Linked DNA regions of Homo sapiens: regions 2 and 3 are each linked to region 1. The links come from fine-mapping of genetic effects on plasma protein levels. Region 1 holds a variant in brackets. A gene starts in each other region. All regions are shown on their reverse strands. Region 1 has its middle 23 kb from the start of FCGR3A. Region 2 holds the start of SEZ6L (seizure related 6 homolog like). Region 3 holds the start of DCTPP1 (dCTP pyrophosphatase 1).

The links. A credible set is the group of variants that fine-mapping cannot tell apart. PIP is the chance, under the fine-mapping model, that this variant and not a neighbour inherited with it causes the effect. Protein levels are from antibody-based Olink assays in UK Biobank. Linkage for the fine-mapping came from a reference panel and not from the study's own genotypes, which makes the PIPs less certain.
Region 2: SEZ6L starts here. The variant in region 1 is the best candidate, but not a certain one, in a credible set for the plasma level of the SEZ6L protein (UK Biobank, PIP 0.68).
Region 3: DCTPP1 starts here. The variant in region 1 is the best candidate, but not a certain one, in a credible set for the plasma level of the DCTPP1 protein (UK Biobank, PIP 0.84).

What each region holds. Positions count from the first base shown.
Region 1 is chr1:161,570,289-161,575,510 of GRCh38, reverse strand. No RefSeq gene overlaps it. Among named protein-coding and RNA genes, the nearest start is that of FCGR3A, 23 kb to the right of the region's middle. The variant T/C (reference allele first, on the strand shown) is at 3,066.
Region 2 is chr22:26,167,089-26,172,310 of GRCh38, reverse strand. SEZ6L (seizure related 6 homolog like) reads right to left here and starts at 2,849. Exons shown (of 17, transcript NM_021115.5): 1 at 2,548-2,849. The coding sequence starts at 2,641. It overlaps LOC105372971 (a long non-coding RNA gene), which reads left to right and starts at 3,077. Exons shown (of 6, transcript NR_188586.1): 1 at 3,077-3,308. RefSeq lists an enhancer at 931-1,870 and a silencer at 2,697-2,826.
Region 3 is chr16:30,426,918-30,432,139 of GRCh38, reverse strand. DCTPP1 (dCTP pyrophosphatase 1) reads left to right here and starts at 2,110. Exons shown (of 3, transcript NM_024096.2): 1 at 2,110-2,260; 2 at 2,973-3,083. The coding sequence starts at 2,160. RefSeq lists enhancers at 1,663-1,772, 2,173-2,252, 3,006-3,506, 3,507-4,007.

The sequences.
Region 1 (5,222 bases):
TGTCCATTAATCAGGTATCCAAAGAAGAAGGACTGATGTGTGAGGAGTCAGAAGCAGAAGGGAGGGTGCCGGGTCCAGGGCCAGTTTGAAACAAATCGTGTCAGCCAGGCATGGTGGCTCACGCCTGTAATCCCAACACTTTGGGAGGCTGAGGCAGCCAGATCACTTGAAGTCAGGAGTTCGAGACCAGTCTGACCAGCATAGTAAAACCCCATCTCTACTAAAAATGTAAAAATTAGCCAGCTGTGGTGTCACACACCTGTAATCGCAGCTACTTGGGAGGCTGAGGCAGGAGAATTGCTTGAACCCAGGAGGTGGAGGTTGCAGTGAGCCAAGATCATGCCACTGCACTCCAGCCTGGGCAGCAAAGCAAGACTCTGTCAAAAAAGAAAAAAGAAAAAAGAAAAAAGAAACAAATCTTGCCACCATCAAGTTCCCATCATCCATTTCTCTTTGTGCATTTATTGGCAGATTGATAAGGCAGGACAGATCCTAAAAGTGATTGGAATGTAAATAAAGGAGATCTCTGCCTCTACTAAATAAATACACAATAAAAATTAAAAGGAGATCTCCTCTGACCAAGGTATTTCAGTAAAGTTGCAAATATGAAGGTAAGTATTGCTGCTGGTTGAGTAGTCTTATGGAAAAGCCCTTCAATCGGGTCGCGGTTTATCGTTCTAGAAACTGGGAAAAGTATTTTGTACGAGAGGACAGTGGAGGTTCCTGCTCAGCATCTGTTCTTTCCTGTGGCCTCCAGTCTCAGTAGAGACCCTAGGAGAAGAGTTTACTGTGACTGGAGCAGAAGAGCAGGCTGCAGTTAACTTGGTCCCTGGCAGAATTACAGAAGTAAAATGAGGTCTTCAGGAATCACTGGAGGGAAATGATACTGAGAGTGGCAATAGCAACAAATTCTGAGCAGGAAAGCAATAACTCATGGGGATCAACTAGTGACTGATTTACTCAACCCATATGCAGTGCTCTAACCCAATGTTGACTCTGCTAGGTAAGAAAGATGGGGTGGGGATGGATGGGAGGAAGAAATGAAGAAATGAGAAGAACAGTGGTCTCTGTCCTGAGGAACCCTCATTACAATGGGAAAGATAGGATATTTGCAGGAGACAGATATAAAAACAATACAAACCTATCCTGTGCTTCACCTGAATTAGAGCAGAAAGTCGTAGAATTAAAAATTGAGGCTGGGCACGATGCCTGATGCCTGTAATCCCAGCACTTTGGGAGGCCGAGGCAGGTGGATCACCTCAGCTCAGGAGTTTGAGACCAGCCTGGCAAACATGGTGAAACCCCATCTCTACTAAAAATACAAAAAATTAGCCAGGGGTTGTGGCACGTGCCTGTAATCCCAACTATTTGGAAGGCTGAGACAGGAGAATTGCTTGAACCCGGGAGGTGGAGGTTGTAGTGAGCCGAGATCACGCCATTGCACTCCTGCCTGGGTGACAGAGTAAGCGACTCAGTCTCAAAATAAATAAATAAATAAATAAATAAAAATTGAGGAAAAGTGTGAGTGTTAGAAGAAACAATTGATTATAGAGCCAAAATATCTAATCAGAAAGATTGTGATTTCAGACATATCTGCATAATCTCTCTTCTTTACCTCCTCCCCCTGTAGCCCACTATCACCCTGCATTGACAGCCAAGAGCTGAGAGCCCCCGGAGCTGATCAGATTTCACTAGCAATCACAGCACACAACTTGGATGAGTGGCAATATGCTTTCCTCTAGAATGTGAAGGTGGAAGGCCCAAGAATCGAGCTTGGAGTGATAGTCCTGGCAGTAGGTCTCCCCTACTTGGCCTCCCATAGGCTTTTCCAACCACCCAGCATGATCGGTCCCTGTCCCCTGTCCAACAGCTGAGAATATGGTCAGAAAAGAGCCCTCCAATTTGAAGGGTAGTTCTGAATATTAAGGTACTTCTGAATAGTAAGAAGTAATAACATAAATATATGAAGAATATAGTAGCTCAGAGAAACAGGCTTGCACCATGAAGGGTTAGGACAGTCATAAAATGGAAATCATGTTTATATGAGAAACAACATAGCCTCAAGGGAAACAAAAGCCAGTATCAGGCTTTGGTGAAAACTTAGAACAAGGAGAGATTGTAAACTAACCAGACGTGTGAAGAGCAAATAGCAGAGCCTACCTACATAGCACAACTCCTGCCTGCATGGCCATCAGGACACAGTCAGTGCCGACCTCAAGGACACTTTTGATGATAACTTTTAAAACATACCATTTTACTTTCTGCTTTTTAGATTATCAAGTCATGTGAGAAACAGATAACTTCATCTAATTTCTGTGCTTAAATTCATTATGCCCTGCCATTCTGGTGATTTTTCATTTTGGACTTGGCCATTTTGATTTGTGGTATAAAAACAGCTGTGAAAACCAGCCTCATTAAAATGTTTTCATTAGAAACACCCCCCCAAAAAAACCTGTATTAATTAGAAACACCTGAAAAAAAACAGATAATACACAAAGTGATAACTTTTCTTGAACCCGTCAGAGTGCTGAGGTAGTGAGGCAACCAAGTACCCTGAAATCTAAGAAAAGACAGGTGTTTCTAAAGAGGGCTAGGATATGAGCACAGGCTCACCTGTAAGACAGCGTGGAAGGAAGGCAGGGCTACCATTCAAATGGGTTAGAAGAATTCAGCTAAAATTTTTAATAAATCGCTGAAAGCCAGATGTGGCCAAGAACTGAGAGCTCATGATACAAGGGCCATTCCTACGCATTTGAAGCATCTTCATGGGCCTCCACCAGAGCTCATGAAAAGCTTGTGGCCAGGGAATACATACCTAGGTAATGGAGCAGCCATCATTCTGGGAAAGGCATGAAGCCCACCTGAATCCTTTTTTCTAAGGAACAAATGTCTTAAATCACTAGAATAAGGGCCCAGGGCACAGAGCAGAGGAAAAGAGCCCATTACACCTGGAGGAAAGGAACAGGAAAAAACAACAACAACAACAACAACAAAAAACAACTCTCTACCCTTGGGGAAGGGGCTGGAAACCATCCCAAGCCTAGATGATTACAGGTCTTCTACCA[T/C]TGAGTGAGATCTAGGATCACTGAAAAAGCCCTATCCTCAAGATCCAGGGACAGAAGGCCCGACTAAAACTGAGGCGGGACTAGAACAGCTGTCACAGCCCCACACGTTCTTCTTAGCCACTGCCCTGAAAAAATCAACAAGAACAGCGGCTATTGCAGCAAAGAAAGAGTTTAATAATCACAGGGCCAGCCATGTGAAGAGAGCAAGCAGCAATTTCTCAAACACATCTCCCTGACAATTCAGAGACTAGGGTTTTTCATGGGTACTTTGGTGGGCAGGAGGCTTGGAAACTGGAACAATCGATTGGCTGGGGATGAAATTACAGGGGTGTCTAAAGCTGTCTTCACGCAGCCAAGTCAGTTCCCAGGAGTGGGTGGATCTCAGGACCTAGTGGCGTCTCTTGGTCTACTGAAATGTTGAATCTGAAAAATACCTCGAAGACTCGTTCTTCAGGGTTCACAATAGTGATGTTATCTATAGGAGTAGTTGGGGAAGTTATAAATTTTGCAATCCCCGGTTACGTGACTCTGGTGCAGTAAGCAACATGCTACTGTAAGGACACATGGAAAGCAAGGAAGTGAGGAAGACACACTAAGCAATGGCAGGTCATTGTTTAACTGAGTCTATTCTTCAGCAAAGTTAAAGTCCCTACCGTATTTTAACCTTGTCTTATGAATGCAGTTTCAATCTTGAACAAGGAGGGAGTTCAGTTTCCCTTGACTCAAAGTTTAACTATAAACGTCACTCATAGCTATTTTGACCTCCATGCTAGAATAAGAAAAAAAAAACTCGCCTGTGGGTTAGAAGCAGGATGGAGTCAGTCATGTTAGATTTCTCTCTTTATTCGTTTATTTTTTATTTTTATTTATTTATTTATTTATTTATTGAGATGGAGTCTTGCTCTGTCACCCAGGCTGGAGTGCAGTGGTGGGATCTTGGCTCACTGCAAACTCTGCCTCCCTGGTTCAAGCAATTCTCCACCTGCCTCAGCCTCCCAAGTAACTGGGATTACAGGCGCCTGCCGCCACTCCCAGCTAATTTTGTAGTTTTAGTAGAGACTGGATTTCACCATCTTGGCCAGGCTGGTCTCGAACTTCTGACCTCAGGTGATCCACCTGCCTCAGCTTCCCAAAGTGCTGGGATTACAAACATGAGCCACCACGCCCAGCCAGATTTCTCTCCTTATTTATATATATATATTCTGCAAAGGCAATTTCACAATGGATAAATCTCTGCCCTACCTCCCAGGCTAGCAAGTACTGAATAAGAAGCAAAAGTACTCTGCCACTGAAGAGAGAATCTCTGAGGTGCAGGCACATACTTTAGAAAGTCCTAAAGTTGGGGTAGTGCAGGAAAATTGAGAAAATACCATCCAGGAGTACCGGCGGCTCTTGGTCTACTGAAATGCTGCCTCCACCCAAGCACAAGATAACACTAGAAGAATTTGAAGGTAACTATGGCAATAATAAAACCCGAACCCAGCTCAACTCTTGACTAGATTGGCCCACACTAAGAGCTTACCAGAATAAGACGGGTTCTCATTTCTAATCATAAATGCAATTTACCTCAGTTCCTACTGTCCCACATATAATGTCCAGAATTCAATAAAAACAATGAGCCAACACAGAAAAGCAAGGTTTAAAAATCCTGTCAACAGACAATGCAAGCAATAGAAACTGCTAAAAGATGATTCAGATGTTGGTACTATCAAATAGGGAATTTTAAAATCAAACCATTAATTACAACCATATTTAACATGTTAAAGGCTCTAGTGGAAAAGGTAGACAACATACATAAACAGATGGGGAATTTCAGCAGAAAGATAGAAACTATACGAAGAGTCAAATGGAAATATTAGCAAATTTTGAAACAGAGTAAAAGAGAAGAAGAATGTATTAGGCAGGGTCATCAGTAGATGCCATACAGCTGAGAAAAAAAAAATCAGTACTTTGAAAATGGGTTCATAGAAATTACCCAAACTGAAATTCAAGGAATAAAAAAAAAGAAAATAGAACAGAACACCCAAGAACTGTGGGACAATGTAAACTGGCCTAACATATATGTAATTGAAATCCCAGAGAATAGAGAAAGAATGGGAGAGAGGAAACATTTAAAGAGAAAATGGCCAACAATTTTTCAAAAATAATGGAAGTTAT
Region 2 (5,222 bases), not on the chromosome of region 1:
ACTCTATGGAAAATAATGCCAATCCATAATGAAAATAGTCTTTAAGTGAATCTAACCACAACACACGTTAGAGACTGGGGAAGCAGCAAATTTGAGCCTTATTGAGCAATACTGAATTTGCCTTATTAATTCAAGAGAAAAAGAAAAGAAATTATTCTTAGGCTTTGCAGTCTTTGCATGTAGTTACAATTATTCCCCATGTGCATATCTGAGACAATAAGGAGGCTCTTCAAAAACAAGTTATACTTTATACTTATTCATGCCTTACAGCGAAATGGCCCAGAGAACCACGTGACCTGCATCAGAATGTAGCAACAAGTCCCTTTTGAGTATTTACAAATCCCCTCACTTCACCGCAAGCAGAAGAACTAGTTCGCAACAACGAGTTAGGTGAATGGTTCTCCATCTGACATTAGTGGATGTTGGGCTCTACATTAAAAATAGAATTTATTGTGGAAGGTCAATTGTCTCCAAATGCACCATCAGACTCGGCAATGCTCATTGGCCAGTATCACTCCCTCCTTATGACTCAGAGTCAGAACCACACACTTATTAATGAGCTTTCTGAAGTAGCACATCAATTGACTTTAATTTGGTGGTGACCTGAAGTCAATTTAAAAAATATGCTGGCTAGCCATGGTGTTGAGCAGTTGGAAAAATAGTATGAAATGTCTTAAAAATTAAAACACACACATGTCTCCCCCTGCTCTTACAATGTGTTTGCAGCCCGTGAAGGAAACAGAATAGGAAATCCTTGTCTTAGATGACAATTCAATACGTGCCATTAAGACAATTTTTTTTTCCCTGCAAGGTGGTGTATTGGAGAGTGGAGTTCTCAGAGGTAGAACTGCTTTAGAAAATCCAGTAAGCTGCTGGGTAGATTCAGGTTCTTTTTATATGTGTGTTAGTCACAACACAGATTCAAAAGGGGGTGGGGGAGGGAGAGCTGGACTCAGTTCAAGGCCACCAAGCCATTGTTAGAAAGAGACAGCTAATTAAGAAAGGCCATGCTGTGGTGGAAACGATTTGTTTAAACCAAATCTCTTTCCCTATCTTTCCCAGAGAAACTGTCCAGACCTGGTGTAAATTGTGGACATTATTGCCCCATAAAAAAGGGGTGGGGGTTCTTCAATGATATGCTTTGTTAAACAAAAGGTGATGAACAATTTCCTTTGCTCTGCACTCTGGGCTCTACATTTAAAAAGACGGGGAGATGGGGGATAAAATGCCTGATTTATGCTGAGGGGGGCACTCCAGGCCACCGGGAAGGGTTGAAGGGAAAGGGACCCAGAGCCAGGGCCCATGGAGCTGAGAGCTGTCCAGGGCCTTTGGTGCTGAAAGCAGGTGCGCGCGCTGGGGGTCCAGAACTCCCCGGAGAAGAACACCGCCTGTCCCCCAACTCCGAGTCAAGACGGTGCAAATGACAGAGGCGGAGCCCCAGATAAGCATAGTGCCTGCGCTCCCTCTGTCTTCAGCCTGGGCAGACCCTGCAGCTGTCTGCTTTTTTACACGTGAGGAGCGCATTTCTGGGACCTTGCAAGAAGGCCGGGTCCTGTGGCCAACTAACCCTCCCATTGATTTTCGGGTCTCCTAGGTGCCTGAGAAAACCCCCGAAGCTCTGAGGGTTAGCTTTGGGTGAGTTAGGCGTTGCACCCCTCTCTCTATCTGGCCCTCTCCCCCACCCATAACTTTTCCTGGGGTACCTTACCGGGGTGGAGAGAGGGTATGGTTCCAGGTCTGAGAAAGAGGAGCTGTCATTCTCTGCTAAATTTGGGCCCCTCTTCCCCTTCAACAAACACGTGGTAGATGAAACTAACACCCCTCACCCCCCATTCCTAACAGTGATCAGAGATGCTAGGCAGTAGGGGAGAGAGTAGAGGGGAGCCCGTTCAGGTTCCCAACTGCTAACTAACATCTCTTCTCCCTCCCCTACCAAGTTCTCAGAGCCCTCAGCCCCCTCCACCGGCCTCTAGCGAAAGCCACACCCAAGTCCGGTATCCTGACGCTTGGCTGAGATCGATCCAGGAACACAGACCCTCGGGGTAGCCTGAACCAAAGGAGTCAAGGGTTTCTGTGGTGTCGGGGGGAGCGGCAAATGCACTGTTTGAGTCTAGTCCTCAGTTGCAGGGTGGGTCAGCTTCTCACCCCCCTTCCTGTCCTCTCCCGGAGAGGAAGATAATTATCTGGCACCTAGCCCCGGGTGCGGTTGCAGAGAAGCGCCGGGAATTTGGGGTTTGGAGGCGACCCCACTCCAAGGAGAACCTCTTTGGCTGCAAAGGAGAATCAGCCCCGCAGCCGGGGAAGACCGAAAGGGAGCCCGCAGCCGAAGCAGGGAAGCGCCCGAGTCCTTCAACACATCCCCGCCTCCACACTCCCATCAGCCCGGGCCAAGGGGACGTGCGGTTCCTAGCCCCGATTTTGGACAGCCACCACCGCTTCCCATCCCGGCGGGTGGTGCCTGAGTCGCCCTGGTCAGCCCCGACCCCTGGCTGCCCCGCTCTCCCGGCAACTTTGCCCCCTGCCCGCCCCGCCCCTCGGGGCGCTTACCTCGCTCCAGCGCTGCCGCCGGGCTCCCCAGGAGCAGAGCGAGGAACAGCGAGATCCCGCGGAGTCCCGCGGCGGGCGGCCGGGCCGCGGGCATCGTGGCTGCAGGGGGCGCGGAGCCGCTGGCTGTGGGGCGGGCGGACGGCGAGGGAGCTGGGGAAGGAGGGCGGCGGTGAGCGAGAAAGGGGAAGCGGGAGCGAGGGAGGAGGCCGCGGGCCGGGGCAGCTTCCGGAGCCCCCTGGGCGGACGCGCGCTCAGCCCCGCGGTCGCTCTGGCCGAGCTGCGCCGGGCGCGGGCGGGCGAGTGAGGAGGAGCCGGCGAGCGAGCGAACGAGCGTGGAGCGAGCGGGAGGAGGGAGGGGGCTGGGGCCGAGTCTGTGCCGAGCGAGTGCAGGGAGGGAGGGGGCGGGCGAGCGGGCAGTGAGCTGGAGGGGCCGCGGCGGCGCCGGGGGTGCCAGCCGCCTCCTCTGGCCGCCGGCCCGTCGGCCCTGCAAAGTTTAACGCCAATTCCCCTTGCGTCCTGGGAGCCGAGCGTTTTCTCTCCCTGCTGACGCTCCCAGCAGCTCTGCCTGGCCAGGCCAGGCTGGAGAGCACCCGGACCATTTTCCAGACGGTGAGATGGAGCCCTGGAAACCGAGCTTATGAGCAGCCCGGAGCTTTCCATTGCCTGCCCAGCCTTCCAGATACATCCCAGTTCCAGTTCTTTCCAGAGCCCTCTGGGATCCAGCCAGCCTGCTTCCCCGCCAGGGCCTCACTGCTTCCAAAGTGAGTCCCCATAACCTAGAAAGTCTGTAACTCTGTGGATCTGGTGACAGCTGTGAATCTACTAGAACACTACACATAGCCACAAAATCGTGCATCTAACACGAGGGGGTCTGGACCCCTCTGAAGCCCAATCACGAACTCTAAATTAAGATCCACCTCCACTTTTTAATCTGAGCCCTGTCTCCCATAACCCCACTGCCGGCAGGGCACTAGCGCTGCGAGGCTTCCTCTCAGGTCAGCCGCTTGCCTCTTCCTGTACCCGCTTCCCTATCTGAGCAGGACTACAAGGCCCACCTCTGCAGCATTCTTGCCCAGGCCTGATTCTCAAGCAAAGTCTTTTCTCCACAAATAGAGGTAGTGAGGGACAATCAATGAGGGAGATAAACAGATACTTGGGGACAGACATTGGCAGAGAGCTAGGTGGGGACAAGCTTATGCACAGTCCTGGAGACTGACTGTCTCTCCCTGCGTAGCCTTGGCAGACCGGTCAGGCTTTACAGGCCTCTCACCCAATTTAGAAGCTGTCCTCCTCCCCCTACCCTACCTTGCCATACTATCTACACACTGCAGCCTGAACAGGCAGAGGGAGCAGATGGAGAGAAGGTTGCAGGCAGCAACAGGGGGAGGAATATGTCTTTAGCAGCGTGGTGGAGCCGGGAGTCCCTAGAAAGAATGGGTGGGGGAGGTGAACACTGGATGGAGGAGGGAAGGAGAAGCACTCTGGCCCAGGGTTTCAGAAGACGCTCCACACCCAGAGCTTCCCCATTTACTCACTCAAACAATGCTCTTTTACAGGCCACTGACTATAGGCCCAGACCTGCCTCAGGCTTTGGGGGACAGAGAGCCCCCCCATAAAATCCTATCTTCAGCTGCAAGAGGTTTCCATTCCTGGCAGTAAACCCAACTGGCTTTTATAAAGAAGGTGGCTGAGGCAGGGATGCAGGAGTGCTGATTTCTCCTTTGGAGAAGATGAAGCACTCCATGCTTTACTGTATGAGGCTGCCAGCTCTCTGTGGAATGACCTTGCCTGTTTGTGGCTATACGCTCAGGCTCTGTATAGTATAATGCAGGCATGCAGCGGGTGCTCAGTGAGACTTGTTCAATGGAAACCTAAAGAAGCAAGGAAGATGGAGGAGGAGGGGAAAGGGAAGAAAGCGAGCGAGAGAAAAACGAAGAGGTAGTTTAGCTCCATACTTGGAGGCAAGGAAACTATTTTTAATTCCTAGGTTCAGGGGTACTTGTGCAGGTTTGTTATGTGTGCAAACTTGTGTCATGGGAGTTTGTTGTACAGATGATTTCACCAACCAGGTATTAAGCCTGGTACTCAATAGTAATTTTTTTCTGATCCTCTCCCTCCTCCTGCCTTCCACCCTCTGGTAGGCCTCTGTGTGTGTTGTTCCCCTCTATGTGTCTGTGTGCTCTCATCATTTAGCTCCCACCTATAAGTGAGAACTTGTGATATTTGGTTTTCTGTTCCTGCATTAGTGTGCTAAGGATAATGGTCTCCAGCTCCATTCATGTTTTTGCAAAGAACATGATCTCATTCTTTTTTATGACTGCATAGTATTCCATGGTGTATATGTACCGTATATATGCTCATTCATTGATGAGCATTTAGGTTGATTCCATGTCTTTGCTCTTGTGAATAGTGCTGCAATGAACATACATGGGCATGTGTCTTTATAATAGAACAATTTATATTCCTTTGGGTATATACCCAGTAATGTCAGACAACCTACAGAATGGGAGAAAAATTTTACAAACTATGCATCTGCAAAAGTCTAATATCCAGCATCTATAAGGAACTTAAACAAATTTACAGGAAAAAAACCAAACAACCCAACTGAGAAGGAAACTATTGTGTAAAGAATCCACTGTTTGCCAGGTGCTGTCCCACACCGAGCATGGTCTCTC
Region 3 (5,222 bases), not on the chromosome of region 1:
GCCCAGGCTGGTCTCAAACTCCTGATCTCAAGTGATCTGCCCACCTCCGCCTCCCAAAGTGCTAGGATTACAAGCATGAGCCACTACGCCCAGCCTTTCATAGTATTTAAAATACAGTTACATTTATTTTTTTCATATTTATCGCCATTTCAGGCAATACATCATAGGGTCTAATAACAGACTGTGAAGCCAAACTGCCTGGATTTGACGCCAGCTCTACCACTTTACTAGCTGTTAAGTTATTTAACCTCTCAGTTTCCTTATCTTTTTTTTTTTTTTTTTTTTTTTTTTTTTGAGACGGAGTCTCGCTCTTTCGCCCAGGCTGAAGCACAGTGGCGCGATCTCGGCTCACTGCAAGCTCCACCTCCCAGGTTCACACCATTCTCCTGCCTCAGCCTCCTGAGTAGCTGGGACTACAGGTGCCCGCCACCACACCCAGCTAATTTTTTGTATTTTTAGTACAGACGGGGTTTCACCGTGTTAGCCAGGATGGTCTCGATCTCCTGACCTCGTGATCCGCCCGCCTCGGCCTCCCAAAGTGCTGGCATTACAGGCGTGAGCCACCGCGCCCGGCCTCAGTTTCCTTATCTTTAAAATGGGGATGACAACAATATTACCTACCATATAGGGTTTTTGTGAGGATTAAATTAGTTGCTATGAGGATTAAATATGTAAAATGCTTAAAACAGCCACCCCAGTTCCAGTTCATTCCTGAGGTCCCACTGTATTCTGGAGACACTCTTGTATCCTTACAATAAATTCCTTGTGGCCGGTGGGGGTGGCTCGTGCCTGTAATCCCAGCACTTCGGGAGGCCAAGGCAGGAGGATTGCTAGAGCCCAATCCAGCAATCCTGGTTCAAGACCAGCTTAGGCAACATGGTGAAACCCTGTCTCTATAAAAAATTTAAAAAATAAAAATAATAGATTTCTTTTTCTTGCTAAAAGCAGTTTAAACTTGTTTCTGTTGCATGTATCCAATCTTAACTGCTGGATAATATCATTTGTATAAATATACTTCCATGTAGCCATTCTTCCGTTGATAGTCATTTTATTTTCAATTTTTTTCACTCTTAGAAACAAAACTGTAATGAACTTCTTGCATGTGTCTCTCTGCACATATTCATTAATTTCTCTAGGGCATATACCTAGAATTGCAATTGTCACAGCCTTGGGATTTTAATTTCCAAAATCTGACTCTGCCTCTTCCTGCGCTTTCTTACGCTTTCACTTCCAGCAAGCTGGAAGCCTCTTTAAACGTGGAAATCAGAGATAGTAGCCCTAATAAGGGTACAATAATAAATCATTCTTTGCAAGACTACACCTGTTCTAGGGTTTCATAAAGATCTCTGCTCCTCCCATGGCCAATAACTCAGTGGTTCTGATTTGAAAGCAGCAACCCTGTGACTCGCCACCTCGCGTATTCCCTGGTGTGAGTGGAGCCTGGAGTTCTCGTGTGTGGGGTGGAGGAGCCGTGCTGGGGACCCATGAGGCTGGAGAGGCCGGCACAGGCCAGACCATAAGGGGCCACGTGTTTCAGGGCAATGTACGTTGCGCTGGGGCCTACTGCCTCCCTTAGGACAGGGATGGGGCGACCTCCATCGTTTCAACCACAGGACACAGCGATGGCGGGGAGCTGAAGTCCTACTGCCGTCTGATCTTACTCCGCTCTTCCCCTTCAATCCCATCCAAATAGTGTGGGGGTTGGCCTCGAGGTTTCTCAACGTCCTTAAGCCCTGATTTAATACCTATGCATAGGGCCTTTCATTTATAGGGTTTTCCACCTGACGGGCCCTCTTCCGCTGCCGTTTCGCTTTGGCGCCCTCTGGCGCCCATAAACGAAGTGACGCGCCTGCGCTTCCCCCACCCTCTGCCCTTCGTCTCTTCCCCAGGTCGAATTGGTACCTCTACCTTTAGACACAGGGCCTAGCGGAAGAATTCCAGGGCCTAAGACTAGAAACGCGCGCTTGAAGCTCCCTCAGATTGGTCCAGTGAGGGAAGGGGAGGGCTGTAGCAAACTCCACAAAAGTCATTGGTCTCTTTCCTCAGGCTCCGCCCCGTGAGGCAATAGAGAACTCCCGTAATTGGTCGGAGCTCTGGAGGCGGGGCTTCGAGCGTGGCTCGTGGGTTTTCCGTGAAGTCGCGGTGCAGCGGTGGGCGGCATGTCTGTGGCCGGTGGGGAGATTCGTGGGGACACGGGGGGAGAGGACACTGCTGCTCCCGGCCGGTTCAGCTTCAGCCCGGAGCCCACGCTCGAGGACATGTAAGCAGGCCTGGCCCAGCTCGGGGTGGGGAAGTCGCCCCTTTCTCCCGCGTTTTGGGGAGGGTTCCTCCACGTGGTCGGGAAGCGGGCTGGCAGCGGGGCTCGGGTCCTGGCTCTGTGGGCTGTCCCTGGGTGAGCCTTCTTACCTCATCTGCAAAATGGGCGCAGCGGTGCACACCTGAGGCAAGGGAAATTGGGTGGTGCCTCCGAGTGGTAACTAGGAACGCCCTTCAGCCTAGCCCTGGGAAGATACCGGCACCAGATACCGCCTCTGCTCTCCAGGCGCCGGGGGTACGAGAGGGGCAAACGAAGTGCTGAGAGGTGGGAGACGTTATTTTTTGCTGGAGGAGGTCAAGAAAGGCTTCTTAGAGGAAGGGTCTGTGGAACTACCTTCTGTAAGAGAAATTGCATTTTGATGTGCGGCGATTCCAGGTGGAGGAAACTGCAGAAGTAGCAGCAGGAGATGGAATAATGAAGAGGGTTTTGTTAGTTTTGGCGAGATGTTAAGGGCAGTTCAGGGGCACGCCCATTTTATAGATGAGGGAACCAAGTTCCGGAAAGAGGAAATGACCTGCACAATACCATCCAATGAATTAGTTGCAGAATCTCCTGGTCCCAGGCCCCATTACATACTACGGGGGTAGCTGCCTCTGGCCCCTGCATCACCCTCTAACCCGGAGACTTGGACTTACACTCCTTTGTCCTATTTCAGCCGCCGCCTCCATGCTGAGTTTGCTGCGGAACGAGACTGGGAACAGTTCCATCAGCCTCGGAATCTCCTCCTGGCCTTGGTTGGGGAAGTGGGGGAGCTGGCAGAACTCTTGTGAGTAGATGGAAAGCTTCCTGGTAGAGTCTGAGTTGTGGGGGAGGGGAGGGGAGCATTTATTTGGTCTTCAAACATTCATGGGTTCAGTTTCCCCTCCTGATTGCTAGGCTCTTTGCTGTTGTTGGGATGCAGAGAGGACTCACGGGTCCCTGCCCTCTAGGGGCACTCAGCCTCCTGGAAGAGAGAGGTGTGAGGTGTGAAAGCATCAGGACAGGTCCCGTCTAGGAAGAAGCAGTGGCAACAACCCTTTTCCCTTCTTTTGTTTTTTGTTTTTTTGGCTTTTTTTTGAGACGGGGTCTCGCTCTGTCGCCCAGGCTGGAGTGCAGTGGCTCAATTTCGGCTCACTGCAACATCCGCCTCCTGGGTTTAAGCAGTTCTGTCTCAGCCCCCCGAGTAGCTGGGACTACAGGTGCCCCCCACCACGCCTGGCTAATTTTTGTATTTTTAGTGGAGACGGGGTTTCACCATATTGGTCAGGCTAGTCTCAAATTCCTGACCTCAGGTGATCCACCCGCCTTGGCCTCCCAAAGTGCTGGGATTACAGGGGTGAGCCACCACGCCTGGCCCAACAACCCTTTTCCTCTGCCTCTGGGGCTGAAAGGAAGGTATTCTGTAGAGGACCTGCCTGTGGCATTCCAGACATGGGAACTACATTTGCAGGGGCAGTGAGGCAAGAAAGGGCAAGTTCAATTCAGGGAGAATCTGACGCTCCTTCATTGTAAGCATCTCAGGAAAAATCAGGGATTTGGGATCTGTTTTCTCTGATGTGTCCCAAGTGCCCAGCGCATAGTAGGCGCTCAATAGGCACACGTTGGATGAGTGATAGGGCTGTGGAGGAGAGGGGTGGGAGTTGAACCCACAAAGATATGATTAGGGCTAGAGTATGATGGAGAGTTTGGACAGAAGACCTGACCAGATATGAGTGTTGGAAAGGTCACTGTGTCTACAGGGTGGATTGGATGGATCACTGAGAGAATGGGGCAGGGGACACCAGAGAGTTGGCTGGTGTAGACCAGGCAAGAGGCGATGAGCCCTAGACCAGGACAGTCATTTTTTTAAGAGAAAAGGTCTCACTCTGTTGCTGAGGCTGGAGTGTACTGGTGTGATCATAGCTCACTGAAGCCTCAGGAGCTCAAACGATCCTCCCACCTCAGCCTTCGGAGTAGCTGGGTCTACAGGCGTGCGCCACCACCAAGCCTGGCTAATTTATTTTTACTTTTTGTAGAGATGGGATCTCTCGCTGTTGTTGCCCAGGCTGGTCTCAAACTCCTGGTCTCAAGTGATTCACTTGCCTCACCATCCCGCAGCACTGGGGTTACAGGTTGAACCACTGCACATGGCCTCATGACAGATTTATGAACATCACCTATGTGCTAGGTCTTCTAGAATTGAGATATGGCCTGGAACAAGGCAGAAAGGTTTCCACCTTCACAGTGGAAGGAGATTGACAGTAAATCAGTAATCTCATATTAGAAGATCTGGAATTATGACAAGTTCTATGAGGAAAAGAACACAAGGTGATGACCCAGTCTGGCCAACATGGTGAAACCCTGTCTCTACTAAAAATACAAAAATTAGCCAGGCATGGTGGCGGGCGCCTGTAATCCCAGCTACTCAGGAGGCTGAGGCACAAGAATCGCTTGAACCCAGGAGGCAGAGACTGCAGTTAGCCAAGATCACACCATGGCACTCCAGCCTGGGCGACAGAGCAAGACTCTGCCTTAAAAAAAAAAAACAAAAAAGGGGCTGGGCGGGGTGGCTCACACCTGTAATCCCAGCACTTTGGGAGGCTGAGACGGGCAGATCATGAGGTTAGGAGATCAAGACCATCCTGGCTAACACGGTGAAACCCCGTCTCTACTAAAAATACAAAAAAATTAGCCGGGCGTGGTGGCGGGCGCCTGTAGTCCCAGCTACGCAGGAGGCTGAGGCAGGAGAATGGCGTGAACCCAGGAGGCGGAGCTTGCAGTGAGCCGAGATCGCGCCACTGCACTCTAGCCTGGGCGACAGAGCAAGGCTCCGTCTCAAAAAAAAAAAAAACCCAACGAAAAAGGTCCAGGTGCGGTGGCTCACACCTGTAATCCCAGCACTTTGGGAGGCCGAGGCAGGCAGATCACCTGAGGTCAGGAGTTCAAG